Regions from separate parts of the Homo sapiens genome. Here all the other regions are linked to region 3. The links come from fine-mapping of genetic effects on gene expression. A gene starts in region 3. Each other region holds a variant in brackets. All regions are shown on one strand. Distances are between the middles of the regions. Region 1 overlaps PLAA (phospholipase A2 activating protein). Region 2 overlaps IFT74 (intraflagellar transport 74). Region 3 holds the start of IFT74 (intraflagellar transport 74). Region 4 overlaps IFT74 (intraflagellar transport 74). Region 5 overlaps IFT74 (intraflagellar transport 74).

The links. PIP is the estimated chance that this variant, and not a neighbour inherited with it, causes the effect.
Region 1: its variant is the best candidate, but not a certain one, in a credible set for the expression of IFT74 in whole blood (TOPMed, PIP 0.83).
Region 2: its variant is the best candidate, but not a certain one, in a credible set for the expression of IFT74 in coronary artery (GTEx, PIP 0.84).
Region 4: its variant is the best candidate, but not a certain one, in a credible set for the expression of IFT74 in whole blood (TOPMed, PIP 0.88).
Region 5: its variant is the best candidate, but not a certain one, in a credible set for the expression of IFT74 in whole blood (INTERVAL, PIP 0.63).

Annotation. Positions count from the first base shown.
Region 1 is chr9:26,927,758-26,931,879 of GRCh38, reverse strand. It overlaps PLAA (phospholipase A2 activating protein), which reads left to right. Exons shown (of 14, transcript NM_001031689.3): 3 at 3,472-3,572; 4 at 3,660-3,780. Among named protein-coding and RNA genes, the nearest start is that of PLAA, 17 kb to the left of the region's middle. The variant ATG/G (reference allele first, on the strand shown) is at 1,876.
Region 2 is chr9:27,038,989-27,043,110 of GRCh38, reverse strand. The region is part of intron 13 of IFT74 (intraflagellar transport 74); the gene reads right to left. Among named protein-coding and RNA genes, the nearest start is that of LRRC19, 35 kb to the right of the region's middle. The variant T/C (reference allele first, on the strand shown) is at 1,718.
Region 3 is chr9:26,954,907-26,959,028 of GRCh38, reverse strand. It overlaps IFT74 (intraflagellar transport 74), which reads right to left and starts at 2,617. Exons shown (of 20, transcript NM_025103.4): 1 at 2,513-2,617. It overlaps IFT74-AS1 (IFT74 antisense RNA 1), which reads left to right and starts at 2,722. Exons shown (of 2, transcript NR_121605.1): 1 at 2,722-2,902; 2 at 3,014-3,249. RefSeq lists a silencer at 1,044-1,338 and enhancers at 1,935-2,669, 2,670-3,405.
Region 4 is chr9:27,007,385-27,011,506 of GRCh38, reverse strand. It overlaps IFT74 (intraflagellar transport 74), which reads right to left. Exons shown (of 20, transcript NM_025103.4): 9 at 2,349-2,487. Among named protein-coding and RNA genes, the nearest start is that of LRRC19, 3.8 kb to the right of the region's middle. The variant G/A (reference allele first, on the strand shown) is at 2,200.
Region 5 is chr9:27,060,933-27,065,035 of GRCh38, reverse strand. It overlaps IFT74 (intraflagellar transport 74), which reads right to left. Exons shown (of 20, transcript NM_025103.4): 20 at 1-2,418. The coding sequence ends at 2,300. Among named protein-coding and RNA genes, the nearest start is that of TEK, 46 kb to the left of the region's middle. The variant G/A (reference allele first, on the strand shown) is at 2,313.

The DNA.
Region 1 (4,122 bases), 27 kb after region 3:
CTCCTGACCTCTGGTGATCCATGTTGTCCAGGCTGGTCTATAACTCCTAAACTCTGGTGATCTGCCTGCCTCGGCCTTCCAAAGTGGTGGGATTACAGGCATGAGCCACCGTGCCCAGCCCTACATCTTTCAATCTGTCAGTTTCTTTCTTTTTTTCTTGTTGCTTAAAACCAGATTATTTTAGCTGTAGAATTTCCCACAATCTCAGTTTTACTGGTTAAAGCCTTGTTTCCTTTAATGTGTTCTTCAGTCACCTATATTTCTTGTAAGCTGTTAAATAGATCTAGTAGCTTTATCAGGTTCAGATTCAAGTTTTTGGCAACAGTATAGGTGGTATTCTGTATTTTCTATTGTATCACATCAGGAAGCACACAATATCTTTTTGTGATATTAAGATTGATCAGTGGGTTCAAGTGTTGTATCTTTCTTTCATTATAAAGTTCCCATCAGCCTTTCACATAATGGTAATTTTTAGCAGCTACTGATAATCATTGCCTAGATTCAATATTTTATTAAGGTTTACAAAATGATTGTACTGTAATTCTAATATTATTTCTGCATTTGATCGCCAAGACTTTTCTGTATAGATCTTTCCACATCAACTGGTTACCATGTGGGACTTCTATACAGAAAAGACAGAATAAATGCTTTCCTTGACCCTTCTCCCAATTTATTTACTGGTTTGCAGAAGGAGTTGTTTCCTGAATTTTTTTTTTTTTTTTCAGTTCTCAAATTGTTCCATATCTGGCCATTGGAAACCTCTTTAAATTGGCTCCTGTCACCTTTTTATAAGACCTTCAGTAGTCTTCCTTGCTTTATTACAGAATGTTCTAGGTTCAGTTTGTACACTTCTTGCTCTAGACCTCAAACCAGCACTTTTGCCAAGAAGTCCTGTTTTTTTTTTTCTTTTACTGGGAAATGGTATTTTATCCAATTATATCATACTGATTTGTGGAAGAATGTAAAGAGCACCCAAGTTACAACTATTAAGATCTCAGACTGGGCATGGTGGTGCATGCCTGTAATCCCAGCACTTTGGGAGGCCGAGGTGGGTGGATCACTTGAAGTCAGGAGTTCACGACCAGCCTGACTGACATGGTGAAACCCTGTCTCTACTAAATACAAAAAAATTAGCCGGGCATGGTGGCGCATGCATGTAATCCAAGCTACGTGGGAGGTTGAGGCAGGAGAATCACTTGTGCCTCGGAAGCGGAGGTTGCAGTGAGCCAAGATTGCACCATTGCACTCCAGCCTGGGCAACAAGAGCAAAACTCCCATCTCAAAAAAAAAAAAAAAAATCTCAGTGATGTAACATATGAGTATTTCTCATTAACCCTACATGTTCAACATGGATTAATAAAGGGACTCTGTTCATCAGATTTTCTCAGGGACCCAGGCTAATGGGGCTTTCTCTCCACACATGCTTCAGTAGTTGTTGGAGCAGTCAAAGGGCAACATGGTTAATAAGGCACTGGTTGGCTGGGCGAAGTGGCTCATGCCTGTAATCCCAGCACTTGGGAGGCCAAGGCGGGCGGATCATAAGGTCAGGAGATCGAGACCATCCTAGCTAACACGGTGAAACCCCATCTCTACTAAAATACAAAAAAATTAGCTGGGCGTGGTGGCGGGCGCCTGTGGTCCCAGCCACTCGGGAGGCTGAGGCAGGAGAATGGCGTGAACCCGGGAGGCAGAGCTTGCGGTGAGCCGAGATCACACAGCTGCACTCCAGCCTGGGCGACAGAGCGAGACTCTGTCTCAAAAAAAAAAAAAAAATAATAATAATAATAAGGCACTGGCTTTTAAAAGCATGTGCCTTCCTTGAATGTCACAGTAGTAGAGAATTAAAAAAATCAATTTTAAAAAAACACCAAAAAC[ATG/G]TGTGTGACTGAAAGTGTCAGCTACCGTTTTGTCTGGTGACTAATGCAAGTATCATGGCTATGCCTAACTTCAAATGGAGGAGGAAAGTACCATTCTCCCATGTGTCCAAAAAGGGAGAGTTACCACAGCATGCTTTCTGGTCATCAACGATTCAGCTTCATCAAACAATCCAAAAGTCTCCTCTGAGTGATGCTAAGTATTCTAAACATCAGAGAGGTGATGCTTATAAGTAAGCTGTCAACCATACCCAATATACAATTATGGAAAAGGAATAGGATAATCAGAGCAAACACTCATTCAGAAGAGGAAGCAGTGCAAGACAACAGTTTTTGATCTAGAGCCATTCTGAAATCCAAATAAGTAGCTGTCTCAAGGATCCTCAGCTCAGGGTAGAGAGACTTTTGTGATTGCTTCCTTCTGGTCTAGGAAAAAGGTTTCCCAATCCAAGGTTCTTTATGGCTGTGCTTCGACCGCCAATGATACTCTTCTTTCCTAAGATAATTTTTCTTTTTTTTTCTTTTATCTTTTGAGAGAGGGTCTCACTTTCTTGGTCATACCAGAATGCAGTGCTGCTCTCACAGCTCACTGCAGCCTTGGCCTCCCATGCTCAAGCAATTCTCTTACTGGGACGACAGGCGCGTGACACCATGTCTGACTAATTTAAAATTTTTGTTTTAGAGCTGGAGTCTCACTATATTGCCCCAGGCTGGTCTCAAACTCCTGAGCTCAGTTCAAAATGCTAGGATTACAGGCATGAGCCACTCCACCTGGCTAATTTTTCTTTTCTTTCTTTTTTTTTAAAGACAGAATCTTGCTGTGTCACCCAGGCGTGAAGTGCAGTGGTATATGATCACAGCTCACTGCAACCTCTGTGCCCTGGGCTCAAGCAATCCTCCCACCTCAGCCTTCCAAGTAGCTGGGAACACAGGCGCATACCGCCACACCCAGCTATTTTTTTGTATTTTTAGTAGAGATGAGGTCTCTCCACATTGCCCAGGCCGGTCTCTAACTCCTGAGCTCAAGCAATCCGCCTGCCTTGGCCTCCCAAAGTGCAGGGATTACAGGTGTGAGCCACTGTGCCTGGCATAATTTTTCATATTTGTAATTTTTAGCCTGCATAATTTCACATCAAGAAAGTAAGACATTTAATTAACCACTTCATTACTTTTGGACATTGAGCTTGGCTGCAGGTTTTATGGTCACTGTCATGAAAGCAGCCTTAAATATTTATATAAACAGTGTTTCAAAATCATTTACATTATCTCCCTATTATGATTTGTTAAAGCTGGAAGGATTGTGTAGCTCACTTAAGTTCCGCTCCCTCGTTTCACAGACAAGGAATCTGATTTTGAGTAATATTTCTGCAGTTACGTGGCTTGTAAGTGGCACAGCTAGGCCTTGCGCCCAGGCAGTCTGGCACCAGAGTCTGCTCTTGACCACTGTACTCTTATGCGTCTCTGCTGAATTGAGCCTTAGTTAGCTAAGATACTGCCACTTCAAAGAGTGTTTTTAAAATTGGAATGCTTTAGTAACTTTCAATGTTGAGCATTTTTCTGTATGAAAATGTGTTATCCAATGATGTTTTTTCCTTAGTTTGTAGTCTATCATCTGGAAAATTTGGGACATTACTTAGTGGTTCATGGGACACCACTGCTAAAGTCTGGCTGAATGACAAGTGCATGATGACCTTGCAGGTACAGTAGTTCTGTGTAAATATTCTAAAGAATAATTAAGTTGAATGATTCTGTGGCAACTTAAATTGATACTCATTTTACTCACAGGGTCATACAGCTGCAGTGTGGGCGGTAAAGATCTTACCTGAACAGGGCTTAATGTTGACTGGATCAGCAGACAAGACTGTTAAACTGTGGAAGGCTGGAAGATGTGAGAGGACTTTTTCAGGTAAGATCAGGGTAGACAAGTTTTATAATATCATTGCTTTTTATTTGCTCAGATTTTTTTTCTCAGAAGTTTACAAGCATGAAAATATTTGAAAAACATTAGTATATTTAAGCTATTAATTTGAGTTAATGTAATTTTTCTGATGAGTTAATATCTAATACATTTAAAAAGATAATGAAACCTCTCATAAAACAGCCAAATGTAGACTGATAAATAGCTGTCTGATAAGCTATATATAATATGCATATGTGCTTCTGCATATATGTATGTAATTTTTGGTATATAGTTATATTTTTGGTTGTCATTTTAATACTTTTAGCCTGAAACTTCTAAACATAAGCC
Region 2 (4,122 bases), 84 kb before region 3:
TGGATTAGCAACTTTACTCAACTACTACTCAGTTCAAATGATCAACCATGGTCTCAAAATACACTGACGCCCCCTGATTAACTGTGAAGAGGAGGCCAGAGGTACTCTGTTATTAAACAAACTTTGTCTGTATATGTGTGTGTGTTTATATATATACACACATTTGTAAAATATACTACAGACAGGTTTTTGAGTGGGAAACAGAAAGAGTTGGAGTTTGCAGCACACATGATCTGGGATACCCTTATAGGAGGAAGATGTGCATATAAATATCATTGCCCATGTGAAGTGGCAGAAAAGCTACTATCTCCTGAACCTGCCATGGCCCATGTTTCCAAGAAAGTCCTAGTTTCTTGTTCTGGCTATTTAAGTTCCACTCTTGGGAGACTGGTCAGGCATTAAGGGATTAGGAGGGAGGCCTGGATCCTAGACTTTACAAGGATTTAACTATCATCTTATCTTTTTTCTTTTAATCTTAAGAGAATTCCTACACATGATGTTTCCAGTTTCTCATCTTGCTTTTAAACCCCAAGACACTGCAATGAGGCTTTTCCTCCTCCTGTTCCAATGAAATTGTTCTCAGTGAGATTATACAACTGCTTAATGATCAAATTCAAACGGCAGTCAGTTATCTTACTCTGTAATATTTGACACTATTGGTACAACTTTTCAATTTTCTTTGTTTTCCTCTATGTTTTATTTTTGCTTTTTGCGGGGATGGGAGGGCTTCTCTGGCGTTTCTTACTCTCAGATCATTATTTTTCTGTCTTCTCTTCATGGGTCTGCTTCCTTCTTCATTTATATTCTAGAGTTCTGTTCTTAATGAACTTCTAACGCTATATCCATGGCAATTTCATACATTCTTGTGGTTTAAGAACTGTCAAATTTAATATATTCTCTGAGTTTTAGATTCTTTAATCTAAATGCTTACTATATATATTGATTTGGAAGCCCTTTCAGGACATCCTAACTCAGTATACTCATAATTAAACTCATAGTCTTCCCTCTCTTTATTCCCTATTACATTTGGCTGTCCTTACCATCCATTCATCATTCAAGTCAGAAACCTGAGAGGAGACTCCTCCCTCCTTCTCTCCTAAAAGTCATCCTCCTAGTTGCCAACAGATTGAGCTGGAAGATGTAACTGGTTAACATTTACAGCTGTACAGCTGGCCAGCTGGATTAGATGGGACAGAGCTCCTACACATCTCAGCAGATTCCCAAGCTTCATAAAACTTCCTCCAATATCACTATTGCTAAGAAGGAGAGTGGTCAGAGCATTAGTGAACTTCTCTATTTGGTGATTTCTCAGTGGAGGATTAGTATCTGAGTTGCTCATAAAGGCAGTGTAAATGTAGGCAGTCCTAAGGTAGGGTAAAACATAATGGTTTTTAGCAAATATATCCTTAGATTCAATATCACAGGACAGGATGAGATTGTAGATAGACGGAAGCAAATCAGTGTATCACAATGGAGGTACCAGCAAGTAAGCAGAAGGGTCTAATGTAGTAGAATCAACAATGAGGAGACCAAGGGAGAGGGAAAGGGACACAACGGTAAAAGGAAGGTAATTTTGGAGATATCCTTTAATTCGGAGCATTTGATGTGCGCATACTTCTATACTCATTTATTTATTTCCGATAAATTTACTGATTATCAGATACTAAGTGCCAGATACTGTAATAGGTTTTGGGATATCAAACTGAGTAAGACAGTT[T/C]CCACCCTATTCTCAAAGGGCTTACACTCCATTAGGTGTACAAAACCAAAAATTTATAATGCAACATAAGTGCTCTGACAGGAATGTATGAAGTGCTGTGGTAACCAGATGCGTGAAAAGACTTCAGGAGGATTTTACACAGGAATTATACCAGCAAGGTACTTTATCGGGTAACATGGGGATTAAAGAAAAAAGTAAAATATTTTCCTCTGAAGAATTTATACTCTAATAAGACAAGTATACAAAAATGTATACTATAAATTCAGGCTTTTTCATCCCTCAAGTAGGAAAGAAGAAATGCGTATGTGCTGTTAACAAAAGACTGGGGCTACTGTAGAAAGGACACCATTGCTTTTTTATAGTCTCTGCTATAGCCAGCAGTGCAGTAAGGGAGATATGCTCTTCTTGCACTGCCAATAGTCTGAGCACCACCAAAACTACCTCTGTCCTCACTGCAAGGGAAGTTCACCCCATACTTTTACTTCTCTGGCATCAAATGACGTTCTCCTGACTCAGGCTTTATAGGCTTTTATACTCTGAGAAGTAGTTCTGCCCCTAAGAAGGTCTGATTACCATTTTCCAAATAGGTGGCTATCCCAATCTTCTCTCCTGATCAATACACAACAAGGCATGTACTAGTAACTCTCCTGAACTCAAGGTCCCCAACTCAGCAAAGCCTACTGATTTTGGAGTTGAAAGGTCAACAGAAAACAAAATCAGGGAGACGGGGCAAGAAAAAACTCCACAGGACTTTTGCACAGCCAGACTGTTTCTTAGCACTTGGAATACTTCTGAAGCACGCAAAGTCTCCCAGTACCTTTCCTTCTTTTTTTTTTTTTTTTTTTTTTTGAGACAGTGTCTCGTTCTGTTGCCCAGGCTGGAGTGCAATGGTGCAATCTCAGCTGCAACCTCCGCCTCCCAGGTTCAAGCGATTCTCCTACCTCAGCCTCCCAGCTAGCTGAGGCTACAGGCACACGCCACCATGCCCAGCTAATTTTTGTTTTTAGCAGAGACAGGGTTTCACTATGTTGGCCAGGATGGTCTTGAACTTCTGACCTCAAGTGATCCCCCCACTTCAGCCTCCCAGAGTGCTGGGATTACAGGCGTGAGCCACTGCACCTGGCCTCAATATCTTCTATATGGCATGGTTTCTATCCCTATTACCATTCTGGTCACTCTGCTATGAACGAGCTCTAGTTTTTCTCTAACCCTTTTAACATATTATGCCAAGAAACTTAAGATTCCAAGAAGATGTCACTCTCCATAGTCTACATAACCATTTTTTGTTATGCAATCTAGGATTTCAGCCGTTTTCAAGGCTGTATCACATTAATTCATATTGAGTTATCTAAACCCCTTCTAACATTTTCACATATTTTAGTGAGCCAGAACACTTTCTCCTCCCTGACTCCTATTTCAATTTTAATTAGTTGTGGGGGCCTATAAAATTCCATCTTTTTGCATTCAGTCTATCTCTCCCATCTACTTTTCACATACCATTATTACAGTAAGCAGCAAGTTAGTATATAAAATAGTCATTCCTTGGTATCTGATGGGGACTGGTTTCAGTACCCCCACCCCTCTGTAGATAACAAAACCTGAGGATGTTCAAGTCTTTTACATAAAATGGCACAGTATTTGCATATAACCTACATATACCCTCCTGCTACATACTTTAAATCATCCCTAGATTACTTATGATACCTAATATATTGTAAATGGTTGTTACACTGTGTTGTCTAGGGAATAATGACAAGGAAAATAAGACTGTACATGTTCAGTACAGATGCAACCACTGTAGGGCAAACTACACAGTATACATCAGCAACAATGTAACACTTTTTGTTTTATTTTTATTTTAAAAATAGAAATGGGGTCTATGTTGTCCAGGCTGATTTCAAGCTCCTGACCTCAAGAAATCCTCCTGCCTCAGCCTCCCACAGTGTTGGAATTACAGGCATGAGCCACCACGCCCAGCCACATTTTCTATCAACACTTGCAGATGACTTTCATTTAATGACCTGAAAGAGTACATTAAGACGCATCAAAACTCTGGCTCTTCTGGCTGAGCACAGTGGCTCACACCTATGATCCCAATACTTTGGGAGGCCAAGATAAGAGGACTGCTTGAGGCTGCGAGTTCGAGACGAGCCTGGGCAAAATAGTGAATCCTGTCTTTACAAAAAATTTAAAAATTAAAAAAAAAGAAGCATAAACTGTCGCTTTTCTCTCTTGATAACCCTCATTTGACGATGATGACGATTATAATTTCTATTTGGTGCCCATGGTGCCCATATGGTGAGGTGGTGAGATGCGCAGCACTGTAGGTAAGTGGTGAAACACAAGGCTAACTTGAACCTTCTAACAGGACATCGGAAAGATCATTTATGCTGGAAGAATCTTCA
Region 3 (4,122 bases):
ACCGTTTGATTCAAATGACCCCTGCCAATATTGCCAGTGCTGTAAATGTCATCCTACTTTACTGGTGTCCACATTTATATGAAACATCTCCATGACACTTCCCTCTCTTCTGGTTCTTTTTTCTGTCTCCTTGATCTGTCCTTATATAGAGCATTTTCTAAGATACCATCCACCATCTTTTTCTTTTCTCTCTCTAAACTCCCCTTGGGCCCCCTTATCCACACTCAGGGTTTTAACAATTAATAAACTGATTCCACACAACTTCCTTATTTTAGCACTCAGCTTGCGGTGTTTATATCCAAATAATAACATCTCCACTTAGATGTCTAAATATTTCAAAATAAACATATGTAATCCAAACTCATTATCATCTGCTCAAAATTTGTCCTTCCTCTTGGTGTCACCTCCTAGTCACACAAGTAAGAAATTTAGTCCTTGACATCTTCCTCTCCCTTACTCCCATGGCTGGTCACATAGTTCTACTGAGTTTGTTTTGTTTAGTTCTACTGATTTTGTTCCTAAGTGTTTAACAGGTACTTTACTCTCTATTCCTACAGCACTGGCCAATTCAGGGCATCACTGACTCAGGTGGACTATTATACCAGCCTCTTAAGTGGTCCCCTTGCCTAACACACATTTTGCCTATTACTTTCTCTGGGAATCCTTCCATGACCAGTCCATAACTGGTCTTGGAATCTTCGTCTTCTTCAATTTCAGTGTATAGGCCTGTTCTACATGCTACCATGCATCCTGTGTATTACTTTATTCCAGAACCTATCACACCACTTGAAATGATCTGCTTAAGTATTTCTCACCCTTTATGGCAAGAGCTGAATCTTAATCATCTTTATATCCCCAAAATCTGTCTCAGTGATAAGCAAAAACTTTGTTCTCTCTTGTATCTTTTAAATTTCCTCGTACATAAAGGTATTGCCAATTACAAAAATTTACTAAATTGTTAAAAAGCAAACAAAGCGACCGGGAGCGGTGGCTCACGCCTGTAATCCCAGAACTTTGGGAGGCCGAGGCGGGTGGATCACGAGATCAGGAGATGGAGACCATCCTGGCTAACATAGTGAAACCCTATCTCTACTAAAAATACAAAAAAAAAATTATCCGGGCGTGGTGGCGGGCGTAGTCCCAGGAGGCGGAGCTTGCAGTGAGCCGAGATCGCGCCACTGCACTCCAGCCTGGGCGACTGAGCAAGACTCCGTCTCAAAAAAAAAAAAGGCAAACAAAGCGTGTGTTGGACTAAAATGATTTCTCTGTTTCTACACTCTATGTCCAGTACTACTTTTCTGACTTTTCTTAGCATTACTCGTAATCAGTCCTTGGACTGCTTCTATCCTTTCTACAGTCATGCATCTTTATAACTCCAACTATGTGTACGGCTCACTAATCAATGTCTACAGTTCTGCCCTTTCAACTGGGCACCAATTTTGAGTTTTCAATTGTTTATCTGAAATTTCCATTCAGATATCTCATTTGAATATGTTCACATCAATCTTCCTGACCCCACTAGCTCCCTGATTCTAATTCCTTGCCATTTTGAACTCTATGTACAAAGCAAAAGAATTTCAAATGGAAAAAGGAATTTCATGAAATGACTCTTTGAAAAGGAAGACGGTGTATGATCAAAATGGTTTTTCCAGAAGAAAACGAGTACAATAAACATCTCTTTCCAGTGGAAAAGATATTACTCTAGGTTTCCTGCTAACTTTGAGAAAATGTACAACATAAAAAATTTCACCCAATTTTCTTTGCCACCGTTTTACTGTGGTGAAAAAAAGCTTACCATTATATTATTACCAGTGGGATTAAGAGGCGGGCATTAGCAACAAATATACCACTAACTTCGGGGTTATTCAATCAAAGAGTCACACAATTTCCAATTATTCACACAGAGAGGCAGCCTGGCCTTTGGATCCAGAATGATTAGCGATACAAACTAGTGCTGACAAAGTTAGCGGCTGCATAATCTTGCCACCTTAATTAACCCCTCAGGATTTCATCTTCTGTAAAACAGAAGGGTGACATCTACCTTGCAGGGCTGTTGTGAAGACGATAAGTATTACATTTAAAACATCTGCTTCTAATTATTATTACTATCGTTATCCTCCCTAAGCCAACCATTCTCACACAGGTGAATAAGTGGAAAGTTGCTAACTGCCCGCACTGTGATCAACAGACAGAAATAAGTCCCTTCCACTGTAAGAGGCAGAAATGTATTGCTTTGACTAAAATCCTTCAGCCCATCGCGGTCCTTCCCTCTGCTCTGTGCTTGGCGGGTCTCCTGCGGGGGGTCGGGGAGGGGTCGGGCTGTTGGAGGAGGTCTGTTCGCAACCTTCGCTCGACTAGAATTGGTACATGCCTGGCCTGGCTACAGGCCCGACGGTAACAGTTAGCTAAGACCGAGTTTGAATTTGTTTTGTTTGGAGCGGATCAGCATCTCCAAGGCAAGAGAACAGACGTGGGAGGGAGGGAGGAAGAGATGGGACCCGGGGATTCTCACCTCCGCCGGCGCGGAAGGAGGGCAGTTGCCCGGCTCGCGGGTGCCTTAACTTCTTTCTGAGGCCCACGCTCAGTTTTCCTCGGCTCTCAGGCCTACCCACTAACTGCCGTGCGCCGCGGCGTATCCCGGCAACGGGGGCGGGATAGCGGAGGCTCCTCATCCTGAGTGACCAATCCTCCGCCTCAGCCCTTGGTTACACACGGAGCTCTCGCGAGAATTGAGGATATGTTTGTTTCTTCACCACGCTTCAGTGCTTTTTGGAAAAAGTGGAAAACAGCGGGGCGGCTGGAAGACAAACATTTTATGTGAACGTTTGGTTTTCTTGATAATCAGAGCAACCTCCGTGTGCCTTACTTGAAGTAACTCTAGCGAGTTTTGCTATGTCCCTAGGTAACCTCACGTCGGCTAACGTTGTTAACAGGTTACATTTGAAGTTAAGTGGTAGGCAGCATTGTGCAATTTTCTAAACTCCTAATTTGTGGTAGTTTTCCTTCCTATTAGGACGGCATAGCGTACACAACGCATCATGAAGTATGGATGCGATTCTGGCACCAACTGTTCCGTTCCTGCTTTCACCAGAAGCTTTGCGTCTTTAAGCTTCCTTTCATTAGAATTTGGATCCAAGTTTGTGGGGAAGACTGTGAATTCAATGGAAAGTGTCCTTTTTTTTTTTTTTTTTAATTTAAGAACTACTTCACCTTAAATCCCACTTCTCTAATAAAATAACTTTTACTGTATGTTTCCTTCCAATCTTCATTGATAACAGCTTAAATGTGATTGCATATGTATTGGGATTTTAACATTATTTTACACATTATTTCCAACTTGCCTGCCTTCGAGGAGTTAAAAATCAATACAACACAAAATGAGATAATGTTATGTGGCTGAATTCTCCCTTAGTTTGTGAAACATTTTCATGTAATTATCTCATTTGAGCTCACCCTATTTGCAGTGGCCATTTGTCATCCTTTTGGCAGAGTTTCTCCCTTACCCTGCCCCCCAACACCCTTACAGGAACTGAAAGTGACAGATACTGGCTTTCCTAGTCTTCCTTATTACTGGGACATGAGTATTATTGCTTGCTAGACTCTCCAATCTAATTTGGTGGACTCAACTCAAACTTGAATGACAACCAGAAGCAGGACTTCAGAGAGTCTGTTGAAGTAAGGGTGACAGCCGCAGTAACTACATCGTTTCCGAGACTGCAATGTTCTATCACCAGCAACCAGTGTCCAGCATCAGTGTGTTGTTGCAAGCTGCAGTGTTAGGTACTCAGAGGCTTTATTGGGAGGAGAACCTCTAGCTTGTTTCTTCAGCTTCTGGGAGAGTCTGTGAGCTGCTTAATGTCCTTTAATAAATTCATTTTCAGCTTTTATATCATTTATAGATGATTTCTGTTCCTTGCACTTAAGGACCCTGACAGATATTAACAGTTGAAATTGGCAGGACAGATACTATTATCCAAGTTTTAAAGAGATTAAATAATTTGCTTAAGCTCATTTAGGTAGTAAGTATTGATCCCTGTCCCCATTTCTTTTTCATGATGAAAAAGGAATAGAGAATAGGAATACATCTCACTTATTTGCCTCTGAGCTTCCTTAGAGTAGGCA
Region 4 (4,122 bases), 52 kb before region 3:
GTGTTTTCACATCTTTTGCCTAATTTCTCTATACTGTGTACACACACATATAACACATGCACACATACATACACATATATGTAAATATAAATATGGTTCACATGTACACATACATACACGTATATGTAAATATAAATATGGTTCACTCCTAAGATAAGATCCTTAAACTGTTTACTCATTCATTATCCCATACAAGATTAACTATATTTTGGTACTATTTTGGCATTTCTATCATACTCTTTCTTTTTTCTTTTTGAGACAGAGTCTCGCTCTGTTGCCCAGGCTGGAGTGCAGTGGCATGATCTCGGCTCACTGCAACCTCCGCCTCCCGGGATCAACCAAGTACCTGCCTCAGCCTCCCGAGTAGCTGGGATTACAGGGGCCTGCTACCATGCCTGGCTAATTTTTGTGTTTTTAGTAGAGACAGGGTTTCACCATCTTGGCCAGGCCATACTTTTTCTTCAACGCTTCACAGTATCTTAGAAATCTTCTCTAAAATAAAAAGGTTACTAAATTGTCAGCAAAGGAATGTCTAAGAAACTAAAACTATAATCATTATTGGCATTTATGGGGCCTAATTCTTTGCTTAATCTTTAGTTAAGGGCCATCTGGGCATGAAAGGGAACCACCATGACTGAGTATTGAGAGGATTCTCAATATGCCCTCAACAGGGACTTAAATTGCTTATTTAATATTGCATGTTCTCACTCATCTGTAGGAGCCTAAAAAAGTGGATCTCGGCCGGGCACAGTGGCTCACGCCTGTAATACCAGCACTTTGGGAAGCCGAGGGGGGCGGATCACCTGGCTAACACGGTGAAACACTGTCTCTACTAAAAACACATAAAAAATTGGCCAGGCGTGGTGGCGGGCACCTGTGGTCCCAGCTACTCAGGAGGCTGAGGCAGGAGCATGGCATGAACCTGGGAGGCGGAGCTTCCAGTGAGCCGAGATCGCGCCACTGCACTCCAGCCCGGGCGACAGAGCGAAACTCCGTCTCAAAAAAAACAAAAAAAAAAAAACAAAAAAAAGGGGGTAGTAGAATGATGGTTACCAGAGGCTGAGAAGGTGGTGCCCAGTTGGGGGCATGGGGTGGTGTGGGGGAGAGAAGGAATAAATTCTCATGTTTGATAGAACACTAGGGTGGCTATAGTTATCAGTAATTAATTGTATGTTTCAAAATAGCCAGAAAAGGAGATTCAAAATGTTTCTAGCATAAGGCCGGGCGCGGTGGCTCATGCCTGTAATACCAGCACTTTGGGAGGCCGAGGCAGGCGGATCACGAGGTCAGGCGATCAAGACCATCCTGACTAACACGGTGAAACCCCGTCCCTACTAAAAAAATACAAAAAATCAGCCGGGCGTGGTGGCGGGCGCCTGTAGTGCCAACTACTTGGGAGGCTGAGGCAGGAGAATGGCATGAACCCGGGAGGCGTAGCTTGCAGTGAGCCGAGATGGGCACTGCACTCCAGCCTGGGCGACAGAGCGAGACTCCGTCTCAAAAAAAAAATTTTTTTTAAATTAAAAAAAAAAAAATGTTTCCAGCACAAAAAAAATGCCAAATGTTTGAGGTGATGAATATCCTAATTATCCCGATTTGATCATTATACATTGCATACGTGCATGGAAATATCACATGTACCCCATAAATATGTACAATTGTGTATCAATAAAAAAATTAATTTTTAAAAATGGAAATTTAGGCAATATAATTACAGGACAATAGCCATTCAAATCATAATGCTAACAGGTAAAAAGGTTAGCTGTTTATTAAGCAGGAAGGAAAAGGAAAGTAAATATATATATGGATCTGGTCTATGAGGCCTTTTTTTTTTTGAGACAGAGTCTCGCTCTGTTGCCCAGGCTGGAATGCAGTGGTGCAATCTCAGCTCACTACTGCAACCTCCACCTATGAGGCCTTTTAATGTTTGCATTAAAAGTCTGTAACTGCAAGTATTTACAGACTTTTTAATTTACAGACAAGTATTTTTATCAATGCAAACATTTATAGAAAAGTACTTTTATAAATGCAAATATTTATAGACAAGTATTTTTATAAATGCGAGTATTTTCATGTCTTTATGAAATGCAAAATGAATAAATAGAAGTAAACCAAAAATAATAAGAGTAAAAGCTAGGTCATCAAACAGCAGATGAAAATGAAGTTTTCTAAATAAATTCTTCTGAAATGTGAATATAC[G/A]TATGAATCAGATGGGGACCTTGTTAAAATGAAAACTGATCTCAAAGTATAGTCAAGTTCTCAGGGGATGCTGATGCTGCTGATATTCAAACTATACTTTTAGTAGCAAGAATGATACATGCTTGGCACACAGCAGTAATTTGTATTACCTGTAACAGTTTCTCATTTGTGGTTTTCATCTCTAGGTACTTGACTTGGTTTTCAAAAGACATATTTTTGATAATGTCATCTGTTGCTTGTTTTTCCTGTTCAATTTCTTCTTCGACACTTCTGATTTGTTTTTCTTTCCTAAAATCAGAAGCACGTAATATTCCTGATACTATATTGAGGAAAAAATATCCAATTATTTTATACAAGTCATGGTCCTAATTTAATAGGATACTTAAAGACATTCAACCACAGTGTGTGACTGAAAAGTCTTTATATTTGTACTAAAAAATGCTATTTGACCTATATAAAATTTGGCCCCATTAGCACAAACTTATTTTTACATCTTTCTCTTCTCCATCCCTAAATTCCTCTATTTCCTTACTCTCCATTTTATTTTACTAAGAAATCACAAAGATTACCAAAAAATCCTTAATGACTTATATATATGAGGATGCATTTATACTTTTTTAAAGTTATACCTTCAAAAGACAAATAAGAGGCTGCGCTCGGTGGCTCACGTCTGTAATCCCAGCACTTTGGAAGGCTGAGGCAGGTGGATCACCTGAGGTCTGGAGGTCGAGACCAGCCTGGGCAACACGACAAAACACCCATCTCTACTAAAAGTACAAAAATTAGCCACACGTGGTGGCGGGCACCTGTAATCCCAGCTACTTGGGAGGCTGAGGCAGGAGAATCGCTTGAACCCAGTGGGGAAGAGGTTGCAGTGGGCTGAGATCGCGCCACTTCACTCTAGCCTGGGCAAAAGAGCAAAACTCCATCTCAAAAAAAAAAAAGACAAATAAGTTTTAGAATTGTGGTTTTAAAGCATCCTTTAGCCATAAGTTTTTCTGACTAAATTAAATACTGTATAGAAGTTTCCCGTGTAAATCATCCAGTGTGGCTCTGACAGAACTAGGGAGTAGAGAGGCCTGCAGTGCAATTTGATTTTTTAGTTATGGCTTTAGATTAATAATATGCTTTGCTTAAGTTCTCTTTTACTTACTGCTTTAGTTAACATTGCTATTTCACAAATTTTTGCTATTTTTTAGCATTGTAAAATATTAAGCTCATTTCTCTAAAAACACAATAAACATTACAAACATAATCCTATAAAAGTAGTAATAGTGAAATTAATTAGAAGCAATAACCATTTTTATCACGTAATCAAAAGAAATACCAATGACATGTCACTTGTTGCCTAGGCAAGGTCAATTATTGATAGGGTAGAGAAAAACTCTGAAAAAAGAATAGGTAAGATGCCACTTATCTAAATACTTTCAAGATTTACATTTTATAAAAAGCTGGATTGAACACACATTTTCACTCCCAAGATCATTAATTTCTATTTTGAGTTTCAAAATCTGATTAACCTATCACTATTTACTCTCTTTCGCTCATAGATACCAACTTCTATAGTTTTCACAATCACCAGCTAAGCTTGTGGATCCACATATCCCCTACACACCTTCTACACATTCATATCCTACTACTAGAATAAACAACCTAAACTCAGAAATTTCCCTACCAAAAAAAATCTCAAAATAACCAAATAAAAGATGAACATAGTAAAGCAACCTGGAATTTCAATTTATTTTTGTTTCACTGTTGGAGAAGAAGTGGTATCTTCACTTGGAGCTTCAATTACAACAGTAAAACAAATGTGTTTCCTGCTGCTACAATTTGTATAGGTATATGAGCTCAAAGAAATTGAAAGGAAAGTATCTATTTTCATAAATTAAGGATACTGAAGCCCAGTGGAATTAATCTTTTGGA
Region 5 (4,103 bases), 110 kb before region 3:
TGGTTCAGTTCTAGAGTCAAGGACTTAAGAGTTTTTACTACATCCTTTCTGTCAGTTAAAGTAGTAACTGCATATAGTACTTTATTTGAATTTTATTGCATTTCTAAGTATTAAATGTACATCACAGACAATTTTGAAAATACCAAAAAGCCCAAGGAAGATTACAATCACCCATAATCCCACCACTCAGAAAAAAACCCTTATTACTAATAGTAAAAATTACTAAGTTGGTTATTTAAAAGGGTGCAGTAAAATGTCAAGAACACTTAAGTAGAAATCATAAAAAAAAACCTAAGGAAAAAGTAAAGGCATTTAAATTTGCTTTCAAATGAGGAAAACAAAGATTACCTATCCACAAACATGTTTTCCAGATTCCCTTCCTCCTTGGAAGTATCCACGAAATAGAATCAATGTGATTAAGAGACCATAGTAGTCAGTTCTCTTGCCTAAACTCTATGCTCAATCATACCTCTGTTTGTTACTGTATAAAAGATGAATGTTTTTCAGCAGTCGGGTATATCCATAAAGGCTCCTAATCACCAAATTACAGTAATACTTTATGAATGAACGAAGGGCTGCAAACTGTCATCAAAATCTATTACCTGTTTTATCTACTGAATTTCAGATTTCATTCTCTTTAACTGCTAAAAGAGTTTTTTTCCCTTGTGAAATTTTATAAGCACTTTCTGCTACCAATTTCCAATAGAAAACCCCATACAATCACAGCATAAAACAGCTGAGGGTGGCTAAAAAGAGACATACTCAGGAGTCATCTGAAAAAGGCCATAGAGCCACCCAGAGGACTTGAGTAGATGAAATTATTTTAGTGTATGAAGTCTATTTGGTGTACAAAGTCTATTTCTTGGAATGACACATCTCATGTGACCTAGGCTCTGTGAAAGTTAGGGTTTTGTGGACAACTATCTCTGGGAAATGCTTTACAGTATATATTCTTCTTGAGCTTATTATACATTAGCATATTAAGGGTTATGAGCAGTCAAGAAAAAATAAAATAATTCACCTTTGTTTCAGACAACGTTTCCCAAACTTCTTTGACCATGAATCCTTTGGAGGCATAACACTATTAATAACTCAAGATGCTCAGGATTTATGGAACACATTTTATGAATGCTACCTTAATGAATGTCCAGGATCTTCAGCCATATTAGTAATCCAGAGTTCAGCAAACTCAACAATGCTCACTCCTTTATTTAAATGTATATAGACTGAATTTGAATAATTTACCATTATAAATATTTATTTTTAAAAATCAACATATATGAGTAAATTTTAAAGTATGTAAATAATATCTCAATAAAGCTATTTTGGTTTAAGAAATCAATGTGTTGTTTCAGAAATACTGAAAAGTAGAGTTACTTAGTGAACATGATATCAGAGCAAAAACAGGATAGTTTTAAGTAATATTTTATGCTGGCCAAGGTGACTCATTCCTGCACGATAAGAGAAGATACATCTACAGTTAATATAATGTCTTCCAGACTCTATGCCTCTCTCCCAATCCTACCTCTTCTAGCTTTTTTCCCCAAATATTCTGGCTAATGTTTATAAATTAATCTACTTAAGTTCTCCTAATAGTACAAGAGAGTAAATGCATACTGCAGGGTGGCAATGAACAGCAGTAGCCATAGTCCAAAACAGCCCACTATAAATGTAGTCTTTTACCTAATGTTCTTCCAGGTATATATATGTGAAAAAATATTTTAAGAATTGCAAAGATTAAAAGTTTCTAATTCCAAATCTTTAGGTATAACTGCTATATAAAGAATATATGTTATATATTTACCTGTGACATTATATGGTCTAATACACATCAAATATAACCTATTTGAGAAGTAACATTCAAAGCTAAAAATCTCCCTTCTAATCTTACTAATTTTTTCTAGAAGTAAAAATTGACAAGGTTGATCTAAGTGCTAAATCAGAATCATACTCCATGCATCCGTCCTAGAGTTGATACAAGAAAAGCTTATCTCATTTGTTGCCATAGATGGATTATACCAGCTAAATAAATTTCAACGGTCACTTTTAGTTTCTTTATCTCTTGGTTCAAATACAAGTAGCATAAAAAGAAAAGAAGATGGTACTTTTTAATATGCAAACCATTTATTGAACTATTTACTATTTTAAAATATCATTCTTAAAAGAGGCCACAAAAATTATAACATTCAGAAATTTTAGGTAAACTCCAAAAGTAAGCTTTTTTTTTTTTTGGTAGTCAACTTGTACCAAGTTTAGCAGCAAGAGGATACTTCCTTAGAGACTTTCAGTGGACTTAAACTCAGTTTCCGCTG[G/A]TGCTATGTAAAGCATCCACGATGGTTTTATTGTACTCTGCAATCTGCTTGGTCACATTTTTCTTAATTGGCTGGTAATCACTCTCTTGACTCTTGGTTGCTATGACTAATTACATGAGTTAAGGGGGAAAACAATGTCAATAAAAATCTAATTGTGCCTGAGAAAGGAACTAAATACTGACATTTTTCATACTGAAGATGGTACAAAAAAGCACAATTAGAATACTTTAAAATACAGTACATCATTTTAACAGATTAAGCATCAATTAAAACCTAAAATGCCAAGCTAAACTTACCGCAAAAAATTCATATACAATATAAACACTTTTTAATACTTAATATGTTATGCATTTTTAATCTAATTCTGGTCTTAGAACAATCTAACGTTCAATGAACTAGTTCCTATATTCAAACACACATACACACATACACATACCACGTTCTCTAGAGTACCACAAATAATTTAAGGCAAATTTCTAGACTTCGCTCTGCTCCAAAATCACCTACTTTATGTTGCACAAAACTCCAGTGTGAGACTTAGAGCATACTGTGAACAAGTCCTCTATTTTTAAACTAAGTTGCACTAACACTGGCAACAGAGTACCTAAAACACCTTATCTGGAGGTAAGATGGGGTCCAGGCTGCTTCTGAGCTGAAGTTCAGCACCACCCTGGGGGAGAACCTATGCTGCCACTGAGTCAGGATCTAGTTCTCCAGGCAGAGACATCCTTGAATGGGTCAAAGAAGGGAATAGGAAACAACTTTTAAGGAAATATCTGTTACAACTTCACAACACATGTTCTCAACAGCTGCTTGCTGCCTCCTGTAATCAAACTAAAAGTAAACAATAAGATGAGACATAAGTATCATCTTTGTAGACATATAATGGAGTTGAAATGGCTAAAACATGGATGAGCTTGGAAGTCAAACTTCTCAGGATCTTACTTAGTTTACCTCCCTTTGCTGCCCAGATATTCAAGGTAGAACCATATAAACAACAAACAACTATATATTATATATTATGTACATATATATATATATATATACTTGTGGATATATATAACTATATGGTTATATATAATTCTCCCAACACTATGAGAAGGTAATATTAACTATATTTTAGAGATTTTAGAGATGATACAATTCTGGGGCCGAGAGCAGTGGCTCATGTCTCTAATCCCAGCACTTGAGCAGGCCGAGGTGGGATTGAGCCTAGGAGTTTGAGACCAGCCTGGCTAAGTTGGCGAGACCCCTGTCTCTAAACAAAAGAGAAATTCTTGCCATGTTTATCAGAAGATTTACTGATAATGTTTAACTTTACCCAAGCCCTGTGATCCCGGAAAACTGAATCTTAAGAGATGATACAGTTCTAGCTTGAACAGATTAAATTGTCCAGTTTGTAACTTACAAGCAGTAGAGTTGACATTTAAAATTGGATCGCCCAACTCCAAAATCTGGGCACTTAATCACTATGCCACATTAAGTCTTTGTACTCCTTTTTTGGCAACTCCCAAAATCTGCTTTCTATTAGTTACTTGAGGGCACGTGCGTGCGCACACACACACACACACACACACACCTCTTAACTACTGTAGAATTGAAACAGTCATATTCATTTAATTTGGCCCAGGGTTTTGTACATATCTGGTATTTAATAAGTAGGTGTTGAACTAAATTTGAGTCTTTAAAAAAATTCCTAGAAAAAAATAACTCAGTCAATTTCATTTTCAGCTTTTTTTTTTTTTTTTTTTTTTTTTTTTTTGAGATGGAGTCTTGCTCTGTCGCCCAGGC